3 linked regions of the Homo sapiens genome follow. The protein of the gene in region 3 interacts with the protein of the main gene of each other region in a pairwise test. Each region holds a gene or a part of one and is shown on either strand. Other genes may lie near its edges.

Region 1 (7,983 bases), about 11 Mb from region 3:
ATAAAAGTAAAGTGGAAAAAAGAAAATGTTATTTAAAAATCATTGAGAAAAAAATTCAGCATTGACTAGATGACGAAAAACATCATAAAAAACAGAAAATAAATTTCCTATTCATTAAGTGAAAGTGGATCATCTTCATCTTGAGTAGGCTGAGGAGGAGGAGGAAGAGAGGTTGTTCTTGCTGTCTCAGAGGTGGCAGAGGTGGAAGAGAATCTGCATATAAGTGACCCTTGCAGCTCAAACCCGTGTTGTTCAAGGGTCAACTGTAAGTTTTATGGCACCTTAGCAAGTGATTAATGCTATGAAAAAGGAAAAGGGAGAACCACGTTATGGGGATCAGGGATGCTGGTAGAGGGTAGAGGTTGCAATTTGAAATCTGATCTCCTTGAGATGGTGACATTTACACAAAGATTTAAAAGTGGTAAGGGAGTGAACCACGAGGCTGTCTGGGAGAAAAATATTCCCACAGAGGGAAGAGCCAGTACAAAGGCTCAGGCAGAAGTGTTTCTGGTAAGAAAGCAAGAAGTGAAAGTGAAATGAAAAGCAAGAGGGAGCAAGAATGCCACTGGATCTGGGGCAGATTGATGTAAGGGAAAACTGTAGAGAATGAGGTCACACAGGTAATGAGGACTGTGTCAAGAAGAGACATGAAGACCATTTAAAAGTTCTGATTTTACTCTGAAGTTCATGGGGCGCCACTGGAGAGTTTGGGGCAGAGGAGCACATGATCTGACTTATGTTTTAAACAGTTTCACTCTGGCTGCTGTTAGTAAGAGCAGAAGAAGGGAGGCCAGGTAAGAGGCTATGGGAACATTCAGGAAGGAGATGACAGGAGCTTGGATGATAGTGAGGATGGTGGCAATGGTGAAGATGGTGAGATGTGATCTGATTCCGGTTATATTCAGAAGACCGCTGGTTAAATATAGAGCCAACAGGATTTGCTAATACATCACAGGTGGGGTCTGAGGAAAATGCACCAGGATGATGCCAAGGTTTGTTTTGTTTTTTGTTTTTTGGGTTTTTTTTTCTGACCCACTGGAAGAATGGAGTACTTATTGCACCAGGTTATAGCCATCATTTTCCTTTGTTTGGTTTTATCTGTGCACATCATTCAACCTTGAGCATCTGGGGGGCAAGAACTATTTTGCATCCATGTATAGGATGCTAGTACTTACACTGACTTGATTTTCCACTGCTTTGGGCACATGGAAAGAGTACAAGTGCCTCTCTCCTTGTTCTGCTGAACAGGGTATGAGTGGCAGTGATGGGGTTACCTCTACGCTGAAGCATTTGATCGCTCTTGTAGGACTCCCTAACATTCTCTTCCTCAAGTCTGTGACTAAGGGGATCATATGTTCAGATGGTGCAGGCTGGGTTCTTGCCCCCCAAAAATCTCTGTGGAACATGAAGCATACGCAAAAAACACAATTTTGTTGTGTTGAGCCTCTAACGTAGTGCCTGTTACTAGCCTGTCCTAATACAATCTCCAAAGCCTAGGATAAGGCATTGTACTCGTTGTCATTGATAAATGCTTTCTGAATGAATGAAAGAATGAATGAATAATCATATTAACCCCTTTGTCTTTGAATTGTTCTATATTACAACTGCAAAGTTTACCAGTAACTTAGTCCTATATATTAGGGACAGAAGAAAGGCTGTGTGAATGGTTTGAGGGCCACATAAAGCTATAGCATTACCATCGCCACACCCAAATGATGGTATCATTAAACATTTATTAGAACAGAAGCTGAAGAAATGCAGGAAACAAGGTCAGGAAAAAAATTCATTTACAGCCAAAGCCCACCCCACGATGCCCACCTCGTCCAGTGATCTCTATAAGGCCCTGAATGGACTGCCCTGAGATATGTCTGAATACCCGTCTTTGCTGGAGGCACAGCCCCAGTGGCCATGTCTTGCACTGTGCCACAACCCTGCCTGTGGAACGTCCTATAATACTCTACAGGCAGAGTCCTTCATTTTTCACCAGTTTCCATGGCCTTAGGTGGAGCCTACCTTGCAGGGCCCACTCCACTTCCCCTCCTCTGCATGCCTGGTCACCAACTACCTTTATTACCATCTTCTCAGTCCCATGCAACCCCTGGAAATCTCGCTAAGCAGCGATTTCTAAACAGCATAAAATATTCACAGTCGATTCTCCTTATTCACAGTACTGTAGTTATGTTCTATAAAGTTTCTGTGAATACTGAATTAGGGAATAATGAAGCATTGCTCCTAAGAGAAATACAGGGTAGGTTCCTGTGAACCCCTGGTCACAACACCTTCCTCCATCGGTCAACACATGACCTTGTTCTATGTGTGTTTCTGTTTAAAAACATCTTATTTAATATGTATTATTGATCCATAAGCATTGTACTCTGGCCAACAGCACTCTAACTCATGCCTGAATAAAGTTTCTGGAGCACCTGTATCTTCTCCATCAGGCCCATCACAGCCTTCTCATGCTTAGGAGCACTAGATGACATTAGCACTATGCTTAGGGAGCTTTTGCAATGGTTAACTCACCAATAAAGAGCACAAAAATGTAAAAAAAGATGGCATTAAATAGACCACAAAAAGGATACTAGTTTGTAGTATGAGAGAGAAGGTAGAATGTCATCTGGTCTGAACTTGTTTGACCTAAGTAGAAAGCGTGTACATCAGGTGACCCAAATATTTTGCCACTCTGTGCAGGTTCAAAATTACCACCAGGCATGGTGGCTCATGCCTGTAATCCCAGTACCTTGGAGGCTGAGGCAGGAGGATCATTTGAGGCCAAGAGTTCAAGACCAGTTTGGGCAACGTGGCAAGACCCTCATCTCTACCCAAAAAAAAAAAAAAAAAAAAATTAGCCAGGCATGGTGGCATGCGCCTGTAGTCCCAGCCACTAGGGAGGCTGAGGCAAGAGAATCGCTTGAGCCCAGGAGTTCAAGGTTGCAGTGAGTTATGATCACACCACTGCACCCCAGCCTGGAAGACAGAGACCCCGTCTCTTAAAAAATAAAATAAAAATGAAAAATGACCATAAAAGTGCTGTGAGTACTGATTTTGGAGTTAACAACAAATTTTAGCAAGTAGACGAATTCACACATATAGAATCCACAAACACTGAGGATCAACCATCTTTTAGAAGAAGCTGAAACTTAAATTCCTGAGATTCTCATTTTTACTTAAGTAGAAGCGAGAGGAGGTTAAGGAATTAAAATATAATATCAATAAGGCCCCCAAACACTAGAAATCCTACTCTTTCAAAGGATCTTTTTGGAGATCCTTCACCGACCTTCTGCCCTGTCCCGAAGGCCTCAGCCGCAACCCCAGTGAGCAGTCTGGGGCCTCTGTGTAAGCACCATGGGAAAACAAGTCCCTGACCAGCCCACCTCATCACAGACAATTCCCACTGTCAAGAGGTTCTTCCTCCTATTGAGGCAAACTCTGCCTTCCTGTAAGTCCTATGCCCTGGACTGTGTTATTTCTGTCATTCCCACTACTCTGTTAATTCCGCTGTCACACAACAGATACTCAAGTACAGCCTAGCGTTACTTAATGACAGGGATGCATTCTGAGAAATGCATTATTAGGTGACTTCATCATTGTGTGAACATCGTAGAGTGTGCTTACACAAATCTGGATGGTGTAGCCCATTACACACCTAGGCTAGATGGAATAGTCTATTGCTCCTTGGCTACAAACCTGTGCAGCATGTGACTGTACTGAATACTGCAGACAAGTGTCACACAATGGTAAGGTATTGTTGTATCTAAACATATCTGAACATAGAAAGGGTACAACAAAAACACAGTACGATAATCTCACAGGACCACTGTCACATCATATATGTGATCCGTCATTGGCCAAAATGTCATTATGCAGTACATGAGTGTAATTGAAGAGAGTGTCATGTTTTTCCCTGCCCAGCTGTGGGACTGCCATAGACAACAATACTTACACTAAAGAAAAAGTGTGTCCAGATTCTACCATTTGAGATAAGATAGGAATTTAATTTGAGCTATGGACAGAAGGGAGAGCTTCATTTGCTTTTGACTCAAACTCTCTAAATTGGAGCTATTTCTCTAATGATGACAATGGTTAATTTCTGGGTACTTGCTAGATGCCAGGCCCTGTCTGAAGCACTTTGCACATATGATCACATTTAGTTTAATTAACTGGAGAAGAGAAACACCGCAGGAAGGTAGACCCTCTTGCAAAACCCAGGTGAAAGATAACAAGGATCTGAGCCAGGGCAGCGGCCATGGTGATGAGAGACAGATTAGCAGTAGGACTGAGAGGGCTTGGAGGCCAGCCAGATGTGGAACAAGGGAGAGGGAGGTGTGGAAGATGGTTGTGGTTTCTGGCCTAAGAAACTGGATAGATTCTATGCATTCAAATCAACCAATATTGGAGGCCCTTCAGAACGGGTTTCGGGGAAAGACAAGGGGCACTGGTTTAGGCAATGACTAACTGGAAGACTCCACACATCACCCAGAATACAAGCCTGCATCTGTGCTCTGACCTCACTCCCTCTCTGCATAATAAATCAGAGGGCTGGGCTGAGGTCCCTGAGGGCTGAAACAGGGCAAACAGGGACAGGGCTAGAAACATCAGACTATAGATAAAGAACAGATGGGAGATGCTCTTTCGGGGAATGAGCATGAACTTCTGCAGATTACTCCTCCCAAATGCCTGATGAGTGGGTGCTCCACTTCCCTACCCACATGAACATATCCACACACCACACGCAGAAACACATGAGTGCACACACACAAATACACTCGCACATGCATGCACACACACACATGAACACACAGCACAAACATGCACACACACACACGCACACACAGGCACACCTACATGCACACACATACACACACAAACACATATGCACACACACACCAGGATTAAAATACAGTCTGGCAACAGATGAGCCACAGAGCATCTCTACCTGGGCTTCTCTGGGAACTTTTGTGGGTAGAGGAACCCTACCTACTTCCGGCTATACCCACCTCTCAGATAACTGGATGGACAGCATCATCATAAGGCTGGGCCTTAGATGTCTCCAGTTTGTACTTATTTCCAAAGCAGCTACATTCTCATTTGAGCCTTAGAACAATCCTATGAGTTGGTGTTATCTCTAAATACGGAAACTGAGAGCCAAAGAGGTTCAATGACCAGAAGCGAAGTCTCCCGACCCTGTGGAAGGCAGCAGCCACTGCAGCAGGATGGAAGGGAATGAGTGAAGCGGATGAAGAGCAGGATCGCCCTGATAGAGGGCATCCCCATTTTTGTATCTCTCAAGTCCTTCCAAACATCACCCAGCTCAATCTCCCCTGCCCCCAGTTTCCTGTCTCAAAGCAGAGCTGGGCTGCATGAACCACGTCTCACCTAAGCCGGGGCCTGCAGAGGAGCCTGCGGCCCAATGGAGAGCAAATCTGAGCACCTAAGTGACAGAGAAGACAAAAAGGAGAGTAGATCTGTGTCCAATTCAAAGAGACAGAAGTGCAGCAACATCCTGTGCAGCCGGCTCCAAAAGGAGCTGCTGCAGCTTCCAGGAGGAAGTCAGTTGAGCCCAGAACCCCTCGTTTCCTGCCGTCTGCCCAGTGCTAATCTGAGCTCACGACAATCTCGGGCCACAGAGGTGGAAGAGACACTGACCTCCATCTGCCTCCGGTTTCTCAGCAGGCAGTCCCGCAGCACTGGCTCCCATTTCCTGAGCAGGGTGTCCCAAGAGTGGGCATCCCCTGAGCCGCTGCTCCCATCACCACCACAGCCAGCCAGTGAGGGATCCAGAGAACTGGAGGAGCCAGGGTCCATGTCTGGTAAAGAATGCATGTCACGCTCTGGCCTGGAGCTGTTCCTTGCGGCCTGGGCCAAGTCTGCAGAGACCCGTGTAGCCAAGAGACTGAAGGGCCGAGAGAGACATCGCGGGTCCTCGTGAGGCCCGTCCAAGCTGGCAGCTTTGGCTCCCATCTCCTGGGGGCTCTGGCAATGGGACTCAGCCTCTCTGGATGGTGGGCAGCCTTCTGCTTCTCCACGTTCCCCGGCAGAGCCAAGCGAGAGCCGAATAAAGCTAAAGCTTGAGGTAAAGGCACTGTGAGAGCCAGGAGGGGTTGGGGGGACCTCAGGGCCACAGCCAGGGCTGCAGCTGTTGCTACTCAACTCTGCTGATGGCAGAGAGCCTGCTGCCCGGACACGCCTTGCTCCATCGCTGCAGGCTGCCTCCCAGCTGGCGTCCAGGGTCTCAGAACTATCCATGGCTGCAAACTCTTGCTGCCACCCAGCACTCCCAGGGCCACACGGCCAGCTAAGCCTGTCAGGCAATCTGGTGCCACCTCTGAGCTGAATCCCAAAGTGCGCCGAGGTTCCTCTCACAGAGGTCACAGTAGGGGCTGCTGCACTCTTGGAAACAGGGCTCCGGACCAAGAGGCCTCTCGAGTCAAGGCCACACTGTCTGGCCCTGGACTCCGAGTGGTGGGACTCCTCGCCAGACACCCCTCCTGGGAACCGGAACAGTGTGCCCACTGCTGGGGAAAGGAACCCGATCCCAGGCCCTGTCGAGCTTCTCATGTAGCCCGGCCTCCGTGCCAGCCGCCGCCTCCGAAAGCACGCTGCAGGTGGTAAGCAATCCCGGCTGCCTGGGAAGAAAAGAAAAAACAGCACCATAAACATGCAGATCTTACTGGCCCAGCTGGAACTGCATCTGGAGAACATCCCTAGGTTTAAAGGTCATCTCTCAGTACACCTGTCAAAGATAGATGCTGGCTCAGTGGTCCCAGGGCCAATCCATTATGTAAATCCTGACAATCCTCAGGAAGTATTTGCCTGGAACATGTAGAAATCAACACAGCATCTCAGCTCCTCGGTTTAGCAGAGCAGCTGGCACTGCTGTACGCTATGCCAACAGGTCAGCATGAACACAACCTTGGCAGCTCCTGAACCCTCCAACATCTTGCCTGTTGGTCTTTTATGGCACCTCAGTACTCTCATCCTGGAGTGGGCCTGGAAAGCAAATGACGTGAAAGAGGAATGCCAGAGCATGCCTCTAAATGAGATCCAACTATTTACTCTAGCTATTCGTTGAACATGTGAATGTTCACTAGCGGAGCTATCCATGTCCCTGCAAGACTGATCTGTTGCTGCAGACCATGGATAGCTGGCTGTGCCGCAATGTATGGCCATCATCTCATCTCACTCAGTGGATGACAGGAGGCCTGCTTGATGTGTTCTCCAAACCAGCATTGCATTCCCTTCCCAGCTATGCTATAGGAATAGGAACAATAACAAATGCTGACTCCTCATTGACTGGTTCAAACCCTGATTGTACCACTTGCTGGTTGTGTGACCTTCCACAAGTTACTTAACCTCTCTGTGCCTCAGTTTCCCCATCAGTAAAGTGGTGATATTAACAGTAGCTCTCTCATAAGGTGGTTGTGAGCATTCAACTAAATGAGTTACTATTTGTAGACAGCTTAGAACAGTGCCTGGCACATATGATGATAAGAGTGATTAAAATGTTATTATTTTTAGATTGCATAGCACTTTGCTACTCATAATGTGTTTTAATTTACATTAATTTCATTCACTCCCGACCAAAACCATGTGAATCAATCCGACCCGAAACTATAGCTTTCCTTTTATATTAAAGGCAACTGAGATTCAGAGAACTTGACTTTCCAGAACCCCCTGCAAGTAGCCAAGTGACCAGGACAAAGTCTCTTGACTCTACTGGCCCACACAGAGCTCTCATCTCAGGACCCTGCCACATTGCAAATCAGGCATGAAAGTAAAACTAGGCAGCACTAGGCACAGCTGTAATCATACCATGGCCTATGGCGAGAAATGGAACAAACTTCACTCCAGGCCCACACATCCTGCTTTGCTTCCCAGAACAGACATGGGCTTGGAATCTTTGTCCTGTTAAGCCGAGATCACTAGGCATTAAGGATCCCACTGAGCTACGATCATGGCACATGCCATCTCCTAAAAGGGGTG
Region 2 (8,457 bases), on a different chromosome or scaffold from region 3:
TAATCAGTGAAGACTCATTAGGATAGTTTTCATCATGGTCTTGAAAGATAGGAATAAGCTCATTTTAGTGTACCTGTTTGCCCTTGGGATATGTTTATTAGTGTAAGAGTATCACTGATGGGAAAAGTGTGGTCTGAAATAGGGACATGGATCGCCATCAGCAAGCCAAAAGAAAAACATCAAGTCACCAGTTAATAATGGTCTGAAGCAGCCCTTCTTTACTCATGTCATTTCTACTGTCTCAGATATTAGTGTTCCTCCAACTGCAAAGTTTATTTTTGTTATAATAACCACTAGTGTTTTATCCAATATAGACGTTATGGAAGTGAGAGGAAGCAAACAAGCTTCTTTAAAGTGAAAAAGGGAAAGCTTGAGGGGCATTCTCCCAGACATCAATTTCTATTGTGAAACACTACTGTCCAATGCAAATGATCCTTCTGTTCTTTCGAAGTTCTCTACTAATCTCCTGCCTTCCACCAACTCCATCATGCATCTGAGGCACATAAAAAGATACATGACCATAGGTTAGGATAATAACACACTGTGATGACTTCCCTAATTTCTTATAGGCAAACCGCTTTTGAAATGTGGCTTTAGGTTAGTAGCACTTATGTAAGAACACAAAGCTCTTGTATGTCTGGGAACTTCTGGTATAGGCTGAAGGTGAAGGCTGAAAAGAACGAAAATTGCTTCAAGTTCAATAAATTTAAATAAAATATGCTCCGTAGAAATTAAAATGTATAAATCAAATATCATATACTTTTTCTGATACGATTTCAAAGTTAACACCTATACTCATACTTATGAGTGTAAAGAATTTACACATTTTATTGCACCCTAATTTTTTAAAAAATAAATTTCATTGTGCAACTGAGGTTTACAACATGATGCTATGGAATATAGACAGCAAAATGGTGAAGCAGATTAATATAGCTATCATTTCACATACTTTAACAAGAGCTGCTAAAATCCACTTATTTAACAAAAATCTCTAATACAATTTTACTAACATTGGTCCCCCTGTATCTCTAAACTTGTTCATCCTACATATCTGCTATTTTGTATCCTTGACCTATATCTCCCCATTTCCTCTCCTTCCCCACCACCAGTAGTAACCACTGTTTCGTTCTGTGTATTTTAGCTCCTTAAAAAAATATTCTACATATGAGTGAGATTATGCAATATTTTCCTTGGTGTCTGGCTTATCTCATTTAACATAACGTCCTTCAGGTCCATCTATGTTGTGGTAAACAGTAGGATCTCCTTTTTTAAGGCTGAATAATGTTCCATTGTACATTGTCTATACACACACATAAACGTATACACACACACATAATTTCTTTAGCCATTCCTCACCCATCGATGGACATTTAGGTTGCTTCCCTATCTTGGCTACTGTGAATAATGCTGCAATGAACGCGAGAGTGCAGATATCTTCACAAGGTGGTGATTTCCTCTCCCTTGGGTGTATACCAGGGACAGGTGTTGCTGTGCACCCAGAATCTTCAAAATAATATGTAAATCCTACTTTTGCTGGTATACTGTGAACTCGTATTTACCTAAAAAAATGACATTAACAGCACTCTTTCAAGAAAGTAATCTGAAGAGAAAATATAAAAGAAACCTCAACCCAAGTAAAGAAGGTATCTCTTTCCCATTAGTGTTATTGGTAATTTCTAAAGCTCTAAGCGGTATAATTTATCTTTTCATATACAGGATAACGATGGTTTCAGTTGTTACCACAAATTACTTCAAATATAACGGAGGAAAAAATCATTAGCTATATAGGGTCTTCCAATATATCATACACACAACATGAAAATCAATCTAGCTTCACGTAACTTGGTCAAACCTGGCAGAATCCAAGGGGCACGTGGACGTGACAGCCAAGTTACTACTGACTAGGCTAGGCTAAAGGTTAATAAATAAGGCACTCATAAAAGGAATCGAGGCCAGGCGCGATGGCTCACGCCTGTAATCCCAGCACATTGGGAGGCCGAGGCAGGTGGATCACTTGAGGTCAGGAGTTCGAGACCAGCCTTGTCAACATGGTGAAACCCCGTCTCTACTAAAAATACAAAAAATTAGCTGGGTGTGGTGACAACGCCTGTAATCCCAGCTACTCAGGAGGCTGAGGCACAAGAATAGCTTCAACACGGGAGGCGGAGGTTGCAGTGGGCCGAGATCGCACCACTGCACTCCAGCCTGGGTGAAAATCCGTCTCAAAAAAAAAAAAAAAGGAATCGGTATGAGAGATGGAGTCAGGAACACTGCTCAACTCGAGATTATCACACATCTCTCGTTCTTTCAATATTGGTACCGAAAGAAAATAATTTTACTTATCTCCCTCCGTGCATTTATTCCTTTACAATATGAATTATTTCCAGTCTGGCTGGCGTATCTCACTCCACACCCCAAGCTAGTGTCATAAACCATTTTCCCCAAGAGAAACCTAGAGAAAGATACATAAGCCTAAGGCTCTTAAAAAAAAAAATGAAGCATGTGTCTTCACCTCGCCTTACACTTTTCTCAGTTACCTCTCCCGAGGGTGTGAAAATATCAACATCCGGTCGCCCACCCCCACTCTCTCAGCAGTGCCTCGCATTGACTCTGCCCATCCCCTATCATTCCCTTTACAGTCTCATCACCTTGGAGAAGCCCATCGAATATTTCTTCCCATTGCTCCCCCACCCTTATTCATGGCTCAGCGCGATATTCTCCACATTTTTCTCCCAAGAAGTGGCAAAAAAGAAAGCAGCATGGTCGACGACGAAACCGGGGAGGCCTGACAACCAGACGGCAGTTTAAGGCGACGGAACTGGCTCTTTCCCCCCATCTCGGCCTCCGACCAGCAGTCGGTTCTCTAAATGTGAAATCGCTGGTCTTCCCGCTCCCCCACCCCCATCCCCATCCCCGTCAGAGGCCAAGCCGGTAAAATGCAAAGACCAAGGGGAAGCGCGAGGCAGGGTCATCCCTAACGAAGCCCGCTCCCTCCCGGGCTGGTGTCCCCGGGGGGGGGCTGGAGATTGCGGGAGGAGGAGCGAGCGGCCCTCGCCCAGAGACCCCCGGAGACGCGACCCTCGACACCCGGGCCCTTTCCCCACCCGGCTTCCCTCCCCCGCGGCCCGATCCGGAGAACTGCAGCAGCGCCCGGGCGGACCCCAAGCCGGCCTCACTGGCACACACGCCACACACAAAAGCGCCGCGGCCGCCGCCTTCCCACCCCCACAGCCCGGCGAAGCAATCAATGAGGCGGCCGGCGCCCGCGTCCCCTCCGTGCACACCCGAACACGGGGCCGAGCGGGCCAGCGGGGCTGGCAGCGCGGCTCACCATCGCTGCGCTTGATCTCCACGTAAATCCCGATCTGGATCTTGCCGAAGTTGGCCGTTGCCATCACCTCATCTGGAGCAGCAGCAGCGGGCCGAGGGAGGGGGACCGGAGGGCGGAAAAGGCGGGGAGGGGGCGGGGTAGGTGTGGGAGGGGGAGCGGTTGCCCGCGGCCGCGCCGGCCCGGGCGACAGCGTGAACGCAAGCGGGGCCGCAAGGAGCAGCTGTGGGGAAGCAGGCGGAGGCCCCGGGCCTGCAGGCCGGCAGGAGGACGCGCACGCCGGGTAGTCGGGGTGAAGCTAGGGCCGGGGCCGTGAGACGGCGCGGGGTAGAGTGGGAGGGCCCGCACCGCCCGCCGGGGAGCCGACGCTGGGGAGGCGGGGCGCCGCGCGCCTGCGCAGAGCGCGCCTCCGGCGTCTCTTCTTCCTTTTCGGCTGGCCTCTCCCCGCTGCCTCCAGGCGGCCCCGCCCAGCTCTGCAGCGGGGTGGGCGGCGGCCGCGGCTTACCCAGCCGCTGGAGCGTTGAGCGCTCGGCCCGGCCCACAGCTAGCCGGCGTCGCGTTTGATTTCAGCGCGCGGCCTAGAAGACGCGGGAAGCGTCGCGCCGAGCTTTCTTGCCCTCTCGCTTCCGGGAATTGGCGCTGTTGCCGGAATGGGTTAAAGGCCACGTGGTTTCAGGGGCTTTCTAGCGGGCTGAGGGATGTGAATTCAAGGGCCCTCCGTTGACAGTACGGGATCCGGGTTTTCATCGGAAGGTGGCACCCCCTATTTCCACTTACAGGTAGCTGACCCAAGCAGCCCTCCCAAGCACACTTGGTGTAGGTTTCCCATCCAGTTACGCTGGAAGGGAAGAAACACCCTTGAGGTGTCACCTACCCTAAATCGAAATGAAGATCCACCCCTTTACAGTCTTGCCTTATAGTTTATCACACTCAGAAAGAAGCTCTGTGGTGGGGCGTCCTTAACTGTTCAGGTTATGAGGCATCCGATGCTGGTGCCCTGTTTCTGCTGAGGGTTCAAGACTTACTTGCCTTGGCCTGTAAAGCCAACAACTGTGACTCAAGGGAAGAAGGCAGACACATAAGGTTGACTAGGGAATGTGTCTTTTTGCAATAATTTAATTAGTCTGACCACATCAGCAATGTGGAAAGCAAGACTCTCCATCCTGGCAGAGCAGGAAGGCCACGTGTACCGGGGCCCTGGAAACTGTATTTATAGCACCGTGTGAAAACCTCCAAACGTCTAACTCCTGCTTGTAGTACTGGCAATTGATAGGTTGGAAACAACACTTTTCATGGCCTACTTTCCCTAGTCATTGTTTTTTGTTGTTGTTGTTTTGTTTTGTTTGTTTTTGAGGGGGAGTCTTGCTCTGTCGCTCAGGCTGGAGTGCAGTGGCGCGATCTCCGCTCACTGCAATCTCTGCCTCCTGTGTTCAAGCGATTCTCACGCCTCAGCCTTCCGAGTAGGTGGGATTACAGGCCCGCGCCACCACGCCTGGCTAATTTTTGTATTTTTAGTAGAGACGGGGTTTCACCATGTTGGCCAGGCTGGTCTCAAACTCCTGACCTCAGGTAATCCACCCGCCTCCACCACCCAGAGTGCTGAGATTACAGGCATGAGCCACTGCGCCCGGCCTTCCCTAGTCATTGATAATCTCCCTGTAACAATAACTACAAATATACAATTTAAAATTTTAAAATTGGAAACTGGATATATACATCAATGCTTATGTGGATATATGTGTGCCTAGAGTTTTCTATCTAATGTAAGTAATCATGTAGGTCCTTAAAAAACTGTTAAAAGACTGGCTTCATCTGTAGCTTGAACATATTGAAGGTATACCTGTCAAAAGAACAATTCTATTGAATCCATTCTAAAGTGCATATAATTTCTATGGAAAAAAAACCACACTGGATAGACAATGTGGAAAATAACTTCTTTTACATTCCAGAAATGACACACTTGAGTACCCCGGTTTCAAGTGAAATTTGACCAAATCAGGGTTTAGTTTTTATTTTTTCTATAATTTTGGGAGTTTTATCTGAACTCTTCAAGCTCCTGTCTAGAATTCATTTTCTGATGTCTCTGCAACTGAGGTATAAAACATCTATTTATATTTTATTTATACTTTATAAAGAATGCAAAGAAATCAAGCTATACAGCTCAAAGTTAACATTGTTTCATAAAATATTATTATTATTATTATTAGAGACGAAGTCTAACTCTGTCGTGCCTAGGCTAGAGTGCAGTGGCATGATCTCAGCTCACTGCCACCTCCACCTCCCAGGTTCAAGTTATTCTCCTGCCTCAGCCTCCCAAGTAGTTGGGACTACAGGCGTGTGCCACTACGCCCAGCTAATTTTTTGTATTTTTAAAATAGAGACGAGGTTTCACCGTGTTAGCCAGGATGGTCTCGATCTCCTGACCTCATGATCCTCCCGCCTCAGCCTCCCAAAGTGTTGAGATTACGTGAGCCAACACGTCCAGCCAATAAAATATTATTTTGTATCGTGGTTGCTGACACATACCTTACACTCTGTGGTTTATATGGTTAATCTTAACCTTTAATCCATATAAAAGGTATTTTTAAAATATGTACATTGTTTTGCTCCATAAAAATGTATGACATAACACTTAACAAACACAAAACCTTTCCTTTATAAGACATACCCAAAAGGCTTACTTTTTTTGGTACACATCAGCATATGTATTTACCAAGACTTTCATTATGGGCTTTGTATGCTAGTGGCTTCCTAAAGAGCAGCCATAAATACATGCAATGTGGCTATGTTTCCATCAACATCCTGGATCAAATATTCTAACTCTGGCTGAGACATTAACAAGATATATAATCCTAACTAGAACTACTACTAATAAGATCCTGAATTAGTAACTACTAATTAATCACTAAGATATATACCCTACTAAGAACTACTGTTTTTATTAGGATTATATAGTCTGCACTCAGACATTTGTTCAATGAGTTAACTTCTTAAACTGCTCAGTATCTCAGTTACCTCTTTGATCAACCTGGAATAATAACTTACATTCTCTCAATCACAGAAAGTTTTTGTGAGGACAAATGAAATAAAATGTGATAGTGCCTTGATATTTATAATTTTTTTTTTTTGAGATGAAATCTCACTCTGTCGCCCAGGCTGGAGTGCAATGGTGCAATCTCGGCTCACTGCAACCTCTGCCTCCCGGGTTCAAGCAATTCTCCTGCCTCAGCCTCCCGAGTAGCTGGGATTACAGGCACCTGCCACTACACCCGGCTAATTTCTGTATTTTTAGTAGAGATGGGGTTTCACCATGTTGGTCAGGCTGGTCTCAAACTTCCGACCCCAGATGATCCACCCGCCTCAGCCCCCCAGAGCACTGGGATTACAGGCGTGAGCCAACGCGCCTGGCCTGTAATTTGTTTTATAAAAGTAAACCATCCTATAAAATATAACCCAGGCCAGGTGCTGTGGCTCATGCCTGTAATCCCAGCATTTTGGGAGGCCTAGATAGGAAGATCCGTTGAGCTCAGGAGTTTCAAACCAGACATTTGTATTCACATTCAGCTAAGTGAAAATACCAGGTGAAAGGCTGCTGATCACTTAGATCATGCAAAAGAGATAATATCATTTTTTTCTTAATACCTATCGCTGGCTTCCCAGAATAAAATCTGAATTCTTTACAAAACTGTACGCGATCTAGCTCTGGCTTCCTCGGCAGCCTCGTCTGGTGCTGCTCTCCTCTCACTCTGCTCCATTTTCGCAGAACTCCTTTCTGTCCCTTAAATCAGTCAAGATCTCTGATCAGGATGGCTGCTCTTGCTCATCTTTTCATGTGACTGATTCATCTTCCAGGTCTCAGTCAAAAATCACTCCTGGAAAAAGCCTTTCCTTGTCCCTCACCTTACCCCCACTTTTCTCAATCTGTCTTTCCTCCCCAACTCTAAAGTAACCTCCTCAAGGGTAGAAATCTTGCCTAAAATTCTTCACTCTATCTTTGGCACATAGAAGGGTACCTGGAACACAGCTGCTCAGCAAATATTTGTTGAATGAATGAAGGAAAAGTTTAATAATTTGTTATATGTTGCCAAATTTATAGCCTTAGGTAGTCTTTTCTCTCTGTTTGTTTGTTTTTTTTCTTTTTTTGAGATGGAGCCTCACTGTCGCCCAGGCTGGAGTGCAGTGGCATGATCTCGGCTCACTGCAACCTCTGCCTTCTAGGTTTAAGCAATTCACAAGAATCGAGATTCTCACGCCTCAGCCATCTGAGTAGCTGGGATTGCAGGCATGTGCCACCACACCCAGCTAAGTTTTGTATTTTTAGTAGACGACGGGGTTTTACCATGTTGGCCAAGCTGGTCTTGAACTCCCGACCTCAAGTGATCCGCCCACCTCAGCCTCCCAAAGTTCTGGGATTAGAGGCATGAGCCACTGTGCCTGGCTCATCTTTTCTCTTTCTGAATAAGCTCAATTGGTAATAGATTTTCTCATTAATATGACCCAGACAATCAATATTTAATGTTTCAATCATTTGAACCTCAAAAATCTCTAGTAGATATAGATTAGTGTATATGTAATAAATGTTTATAAAAATTTTAGGCTGGCACGGTGGCTCATGCCTGTAATCCTAGTCCTTTGGAGGCTGAGGCGGGAGAGTTTTTTGAACCCAGGAGTTTGAGGCTGCAGTGAGCTGTGATCCCACCATTACACTACAGCCTGGGTGATAGAGTGAAACCCTGTCTCAAAAAATAAAAAATAAAATTTTAAAACAAAAAGTGTATAAAGTAAAATGAAAGGGAAAGCCCTCGTTGCCCTCCAAGTCCCATTTTCTGGAAGTGGCCACTGTTAAGTATCATATTAATCCAATAATTCTCAATCTTTATTGGGCATAAAAGTCATATGAGATGATTGTTATGCAGACTCTTGGGTCCTATCATCAGAGATTGTGATTCAGTAGATCTAGTTTGAAGTGTAGGAATATGCACTTTTTTAACATTCACTCCAGGTGATTTTCACTCCAGGTCAGGTGATAATTCTTTTTTAAAATATATTTTACAAAAAATTTTAAGCCTGGGCAACATAGTAAAAACCTTGTTCCTGCAAAAAAAAAAAAAATTAGCTGAGCGAGGTGG
Region 3 (7,983 bases):
AAAAAATGAGTTATATTCACAAAAACATTATCTTCAATGGCTTGTAAAATGGTCTGAAGGCAAATCCAAAAGAAGAGTTCTCACACTGGCACCATACTGGAATGTATGTCTACCTATAAATCAACTTTGAAGGACAACAGTAATATGATTACATAATTTCTAGTAAGGGCTTAAAAGATCTAATCATTAAAATACAGATATAGTATACATGTGGACATTAATCCCTCTATTTGGAATTAGGCCCACAAATGGGCTTGTGAGGACAGAACGTTTTAAAATAATGGCTTAAAAATAATAGTCGATACAGGCCAGGCGCGGTGGCTCACGCCTGTAACCCCAGCACTTTGGGAGGCTAAGGTGGGTGGATCACGAGGTCAGGAGATCAAGACCATCCTGGCTAACACGGTGAAACCCCGTCTCTACTAAAAATAAAAAAAATTAGCCGGGTGTGGTGGTGGGCGCCTGTAGTTCCAGCTACTCGGGAGGCTGAGGCAGGAGAATCGCGTGAACCCAGGAGGCGGAGCTTGCAGTGAGCCGAGATCGCGCCACTGCACTCCAGCCTGAGTGACAAAGCGAGACTCTGTCTCCAAAAAAAAAAAAAAAAAATAGTAGTAATAATAATAGTCAATATAGAAAATAGTTATAATGACTAAGTTATAAATGGGTTTAATAAAGGTATTTTTAAAATGATTACCTTTTAAAAGGATATTTTACCTCAGTTTTTGTTTATTAAGAGTGGTTTTAAAAAGTCTAAGTTATTTCTAAATTCTCAAGGTTCAGCTACCTCTTATACTGTACTAGGAGATCAATATTATTTATCCAATTCATATAAACAGCCTATGTGTTTGTGAGTGTTAACCTACAGAAACAAAATGTCTCAATTACGTATTGTCTAGAAGTAAAATGTCACAATCATGTCTCAAAAATACATATGCCAGGTAACTGCTGATAACTATAATTAAATATTGTGATAGGCTCCAACAAATAATTAGGTAATCACATCATCTCACTGTCCGGAAATGTCTTAGAAGCAAATCAGAAATAAGTATACAAATACTATTTCTTCATTACTTGATCAGAATGCCAGGACATAAGGTACAGATTAAATCAGGGACAGTCTTGTCATTGACAGAGAAATCGCCCATTGTTTTCAAATTAGTACCTATCACATGCTCAAGTACTAGATGAAGTGTTAGGAGTACAAAAACTCCTAATATAGTAACAGAATGGTCAGCTAAACGTGTAATCACAATTTGTTCAAAATCGTTTTCCTTATAGATAGCTTATTAAATAAAAGATAGGGTAACATAAATCTATACTCAATTCTAAAATAAATTTAATTGGCAAAACCAATGAGAAAAAACTGATCAGCTGATACATCAGTGTACAAACATACAAATTGTACTAATTTTGGCTAAGTTCTACACAAATAAAGTATATATAACTATTTCAAAAATGAACATTCAACTCTAATTTTCATGAAGTCCTAATATTAAAAAAAATTTTAAAACTGGATTAATAGATCCTACCAAATATTTCTAAACCAAAAATCTTTGTTTTATGAGTAACCACTGAGAATACTTTGAAGCGCTCCATCAATGATGTGACTGCATTACCAAAGTAGAACTTTTGGCTCAGACCAAATGACTTAAAATTTCTTTCAGAATCTAGATATTGATCTCAATAGAGAACAGAATTGAATATATCTTTTCCTTAAATCAAGAAAATGATGGAACTCATCTTCTAGGGAACTCTACTGGTAAACTTAATAAATCTTATATTTCTAGAAGAAAAAGAAACATGTTTTATAGCATAAATATAAGCTCATAAAACCAATCTGGTTTTGTCAAGAAAATGAAGGAAGACTATTTTGAATGAGGAAATTGGACATGGGCAGTGTAGCTTCCTGTTTAGTTTTAAGACTAAATATAACCTTTGAAAAAAGCAGAATGTTTTCTACCATGTAAGTATCTACTAGTAGTCTAGTAAATGAAGACCAGATTTTCTTTATCGTAAAGTAGGAAGTTCTGAATGATCAAATCACTTTACCTTTCAACCTTTTCAAGTACACTGGAACATCACTTTTAATGCTTTTAGAATCCTCTTCTGTTCTTTCCCATAGCATTTGAGGAGGGTTGTTTTGTGCTAGCCAGTCAGCAACTTTGTTTTCGGGTGCCATCATTCCTGTTTGAATCCCCAGCAAGTCTTGAGTTCCAGGAGAAGACTTCTTGGACTTGTGGCGCTGATCAGAAGTAAACTTTGTCACATGGTCTCTAATAGTTACCTTCCCTGGGGTACTGTCATCAAATTCAATGGTAAATGAAGCATGCCCTGCACCTGTTATATGGGAACTTGGCGTGTCTTTTGTTGGGATTTCATGAATAGTGCTTTCTGTTATTTGTGATGGTTGCTGGAATTCTTTTGTAGGGATTTCAAAATAACTTGGTTCCCTACAGAAAGGAAAAAGTACTTCTTCATTTGCAGCTGCAGATTGTTCCTCAACTTGCTTGGCATCTATGCCGCACCCTAATGAGAAAAATAAGAGAAAATTCAAAATATTTGATTGCTTCTGGCACTTGAGGGAGTCTGGTAATGGCCATGTGTACTACTCCGTGAGAACCAGAAGGCAGATCACAGTCTGGATGAAAACCAATGGCATTTATATCACAGAACAAATGTCACAGAGAAGAAAGAATCTTGATTATAAACATGCGATTTGATTACCAATAGGGGATGGAAGATAAGCAGCAGCAATGGCAAATGAGAGCAAAGCAGTTAAGAAATGGATCTTGCATGGCTAGGTCCATATTTTTTCCAACCTGGATCTAGAATTCATCAAGGTCCAAAAGAATTAAAATAAAATGTAGATGGAGATGCATGTTCAATGTATATATAAAAAGTGACAGAAAAACCATGAACTCCCTTCTCAAGTCGCCAAGATGAGATATCTGAAATATATATGAACACATGTAGTGCTCCAAAGGAGAATAGGTGCTCAAATGAGAATACAAACATGAAGTAAATATGTAAGTGATCTTCTGGAAGTAATGATTCCACTTACCATTCTTCACCATTACATTCGGAAACATTACTTTCAGAATGACAAAGATATTGCTGAAGTGCGATCCTTGCAAGAAGATACAAACATTTTATAAAGACTAAAACATGTGGTTTGCAATCCAAGCAGCAGTGTGAACGAAATAAGGTTAAAATAGGAAATTCAGTTTCCAGACAATAACTCTGGAAGTTTACATTTCCATACAGCAGAATATGCAAAAGTGTCAAAATTCCTTGGAGGAAAGCTGAATTGTAAACCTCAGATTAACATGAGTTGGCAGAAGGAGCAAGCAACTCTGGAACACTATCACTATTCTTCTGTTGCCTCAGAATCTAATACAAAAGTATAGAAACAGATGCATTTATGAATAAAATACATAAATAAAAATGACAACTAAAACGTTTTCGGTACGCAAATGCAAAATAAAAAAATTAAAGATGCTATTGTCCTGTTGTTGAAGAAGCAAAGCATGTCCATTATCAAAATGAAGAGCAAGTTGAAATGAGACATATTTCCCTAAAGCTCAAAAATAAATTCTGCTTTTAAACAGATTAATAGAAAAATCACTTACAGACAATTTATTAGGAAAACAAGGCAATACAGGGAGACTAGGTTGTTTCCAAACATTTTCTAATTAAGTGAAGCGTTTGGTCTTTTGAAACATCTTTTCAAAAATTAAATTTTAGTGGGATCTGTCAGGTACTATAATTGGTTTCTTGACAGCAGTCTGAATATGAAATAATATAAAACCTGACTGCTTTTAGGTTACAGAAGAATGATATAGTAACATCTCTCTTTCATAATCAAATGTGTGGGATAGGGCACGGAAGACAACAAGCTCCATTTCCACAATAAATATAATAATAATAAATTGTCAAAAAAATCTAAACACAAGGCAAAGAGAACATATAATATGAAAGAATATATTGTAATTTTCACTGTGAAAAATTATCCCTTTTAAAATCTACTCAGCTTTCCTATCACTGAACATGAAAGAAAAGTATTGGAAAAACTCTACATTATCAGAGAAATAATCATACATTTATATGACATGACCTAAGTTTAAAAAAATGTTTGATTAAAGAGTTAATTTGTCTTTTTCTTAAAAATAAAATGTTCAGCTGGACTTGTGAGTGTTTACTCTGAAGTCATGTTAGTTAAAATTTCCATTAGAATAAAATGTATTAACTGCTTCTCATATATTAATAGTTCATTAATGTTATTTTTCTATTTTTTCAGACATTGATTTTTTTTTACTATGCACAATGTACTGTACTTGATCAAGTCCATACAGTACAACTGGTTCATAAACCTGTCCTCTCTCCCTCCCCCCATATAGATATATACATATAGTTTGTTTTTGCTTTGCTCATCCTTCAGGTGACAGAACAACGTCAAGATGGTAGTTTCTAATACCACTACACAGAGAGCCAAATAAAACTGATCCACTATACAGAGAGCTAAATAAAACTGATGTGGCTCAGCTATGAAGCAACACAAAAAAGCTGGCCAGGGATATAGCACTTATCAAGGTCACCTGTTTTGAAGGTCACCATTCCCATGTTAGTACTACTTCAAACTCGCATTCACTCAAAGCTAGAAACTTGAGACTTATACAAGTTAATAACTAATTCATCTAGAAATCAAGTACCTAACCAGGTCAAGTAGCACAATAGAGTGGAAAGGCAGCAGACTATGATCTGATGATCATAACCAGGCAGCCTGGTTTCATGCAAAGCCCAGACAAGATCTGAAATCAGATAAATCTTATCCCTAATCAGTCTGTAGTCCTCATTTTCCTCATCATAAAGTGAGAAAACAGTATCTTCCCATAAGATTGTTGTGAAGATTTAGTGAGATGAGTATTAAGTGAGATCATGTAAGTTACCCAGAACAAAGCAGGTACACAAATAAATGCTTCTCCCTCCACCTTCAAAAACAGCTGAGAATCAGGAAGACAAAAAGCTAATACCAAAACCCAACTCTAAAAAACCCAAGACAGATATGACAATGCCTATCCTTGAATATTCATAAACATTACTAACAGTTAAGATCTTCACCGAGAGGTTTTTACTATTTACTCAGATCACATGTAGCAAACCTTGGGCAGGGTACAAAAGTGAGGATTAAGGACAGACAAATTGCACCAAGTGGTAGAGACAAGATGAAAAACAAGAGCAGACAAATGGCCCCAAAAACATGATAGTCCAGTACCATTCAGTATATAGGGCAAACAGTCTTATATACTACAGTCTCCTGAGGACATTACTGTAAGGCAGTATCAGTATTATTATATTACTAATATATTTGATTATTGATTATATCAATATTGCTATTGCTATTGATATATATAATAGTAATACTGATATTGATGATTGATGATTTTGAGTCATAAGAAAAAGTTTTAAATTATACTGAAACTTCTCTGCTTAAGAAGGTGGTAATATGGGTAATTAATTTAATAGAAACTTAGGAAATGGTTAAACTTCAAAAAAACTATCAACTGTAAAAGTAAAGTTCAATCATCTGGAAAATTCATTATGTGGAAGGATTCATTTCCCTAAAGATGATAAAAACAGATGAAGTGTGGTCCAACTACACTTGAGAAGTACCTAATAGAAAACTATAAGGGGTCTTCTAATCAACACAGAAAAATAAAACACCTTTCCTCCCTCAGAACACTAACAGAACATATTCTGGAATTTAGAAATTTAACATTCATCTATCTTCAAAACTCATTTTGTTATACCAAATGAAACTAAATAATAGAGTAAATACTTGTTTAGACTAATATTATATTATTAATCTCAATTACTAGATTTTAAAAAATTATTTAATGATTGATTATGCCATAATTAATTCCATATATCTCAATCAGAAAAGCAATTGGTGATAATCTGCTTATGTTCTTAAGGTATTTTATGACTGTGTTACCTTAACACAATATGTTATAAGGGATACTTATACTTCATCCAGAATAAATGTTCTTTTCATTCTTCTGTACTAAATTCAATGAAATATTAAACTTATTTGAGATGACAAGGACTATAATTATAACAGCTCATTCTGCTTAAGACATCCATCTAACCTAGTCTGTTCAAGCATGTCAAATTAAGAAGACTGGGAAGCTCCTTTTGCTTAAAAGGAGCTACGACTTGAAAATTTCCAAATTTAGTTTCGCTGGATTAAAAATCAACATGAGAGAGCCAAAAATCTATGATTCCCAGTTGCACATGCCATTTCAAAATGTGTGCAACAGTTAAAGGCCTTTAATTATAACCTAAATTAATTGTTGAGACCAAGTTAGGAGGTAGAAAAGCATAGCTGTAAATAAATTGAGGACAAACTTTACGTCTTAATACGATTAAAAATAGTCACACAATTTCTGGAGAACGAAATTGCTCTAAAGTAAGTATTTGCTTAAACCAGGGCTTTTTAAGCTATATGGCAAGTCTTCGGGAGTTTCTGGATATATATGAACCCACAGAGAGGAACGTTAAAAATTACTAGGTAGCAAACACTCTATTATCCTTTCTGGAATGCAACTCTAAAAATTAATAACGAAGAAGCAAATCACTTTTTGCTTTCACTAAGAGTATGCTACAGGATAAATTATTAAACTAATCACGTATATTCCACAATTTGAAACTTAAAAAAAAAGTTTAAGTTTTTAAAAATACCTTAATTTCAAAATGACCACATTAAAGAACACTTGATATACATTTCAAATCTGATTCTACAATTTCTGCTGGCTTCATAAATTATTACAAGACAGTAAACTATTTTCCTCATCCTATATTTTAAAAAGCTGCAAATGATAAATCTGAAACAGTAATATCCTCATACTAACATAAGAAAGCAAGTGAGAGTCTCTTAAGGCTATTACTAATCAGCTGTATCTGACAGGGCACTTTAAGGAATTTGACACAAGACATAAATCACTGAATTATTACTCAAAAAGAACCCCAAGATCATGAGACGGCTTTTGGTCATCTAGCAGAAAGAGTACACAAGCTGAGAATTCAGTTACATTCATATAGATGAAAGTATTGCTGGATGCTTCACATTTGAAATTTATTTTATTATGCTGAGCTAGGAGGGATCAATTTTTATGGCTATTTGATTTTGGAGTATTTGTTTAAATCTTTGTACCCTATGAAGTATATCCTTTTAGAGTGATTGTGTTTACAAGAGTAATGATGGCTGAAATATTAAAACTTCTTATGGTTAAGAGCGTGGACTCAGGAGTCAGGCAATCTAAGTTCAAATCCCAGCTCCATTATTTGTAGTTGGGTGACTTTGACAAGTAAATTAATTTCAGTATGCCTCAGTTTCTTTATCTACAAAATCACCGTAACTGTACCTTTAGGTATTGCTGTGATGATTAAATAAATGCATACAAAGCACTCAGAAGAATGTTGGATAAAGTAAACCCTACTGAAGTGTTAGCTATTACTGTAAATCATGGTTGTGCCTTCTGTACAAAAATTACATATACACTTCACTGTATGTTAGAAGTTACGCGCTTCAGATTTCAAAAGCTGTTTTGTGTGTGACAGGGGAGGGCTAAAATTTTAACGGCAAGATAAAAATTACTATCATACTGATTTTCAGAGTTTGGTGATAATTATATTCAGCTATGTTTTCTTAATCACCTAATTGGTAAATCTTTCCCCCTCTCAGTACTAGGTGGCTCTAGGGCACAGTGATAGTATATTATGCGGTACTTGAATAAGACATGTATAGTTTAGCTGTGGGGAGGAGGCACACACACAACATAATGAATGAAACTGTAACGTACTGACGATAAATATACAGACATCATTTAGAATGTATCTCTTTGTCATTTAATGTATGTGTGTATTTATGTCTGTGGGAAAAGAGCAGGCAGGAATTAGCATAATTTATGGGGGATGCATTGGGAG

The links.
Region 1: the proteins of CEP170 (region 3) and DISC1 interact in binary tests that used the Homo sapiens proteins (3 or more experiments, as listed by UniProt).
Region 2: the proteins of CEP170 (region 3) and KIF2A interact in binary tests that used the Homo sapiens proteins (3 or more experiments, as listed by UniProt).

Annotation. Positions count from the first base shown.
Region 1 is NC_000001.11:231,692,469-231,700,451, reverse strand, and holds part of DISC1 (disrupted in schizophrenia 1 protein), read right to left. Parts: intron 6,627-7,983; coding exon 5,647-6,626; intron 1-5,646. UniProt on the Homo sapiens protein: Involved in the regulation of multiple aspects of embryonic and adult neurogenesis. Required for neural progenitor proliferation in the ventrical/subventrical zone during embryonic brain development and in the adult dentate gyrus of the hippocampus.
Region 2 is NC_000005.10:62,301,411-62,309,867, reverse strand, and holds the start of KIF2A (kinesin-like protein KIF2A), read right to left. Parts: upstream 3,663-8,457; 5' UTR 3,396-3,662; coding exon 3,332-3,395; intron 1,560-3,331; exon of another isoform or gene 1,357-1,559; intron 1-1,356. UniProt on the Homo sapiens protein: Plus end-directed microtubule-dependent motor required for normal brain development. May regulate microtubule dynamics during axonal growth. Required for normal progression through mitosis. Required for normal congress of chromosomes at the metaphase plate.
Region 3 is NC_000001.11:243,188,969-243,196,951, forward strand, and holds part of CEP170 (centrosomal protein of 170 kDa), read right to left. Parts: intron 2,527-7,983; coding exon 2,050-2,526; intron 1-2,049.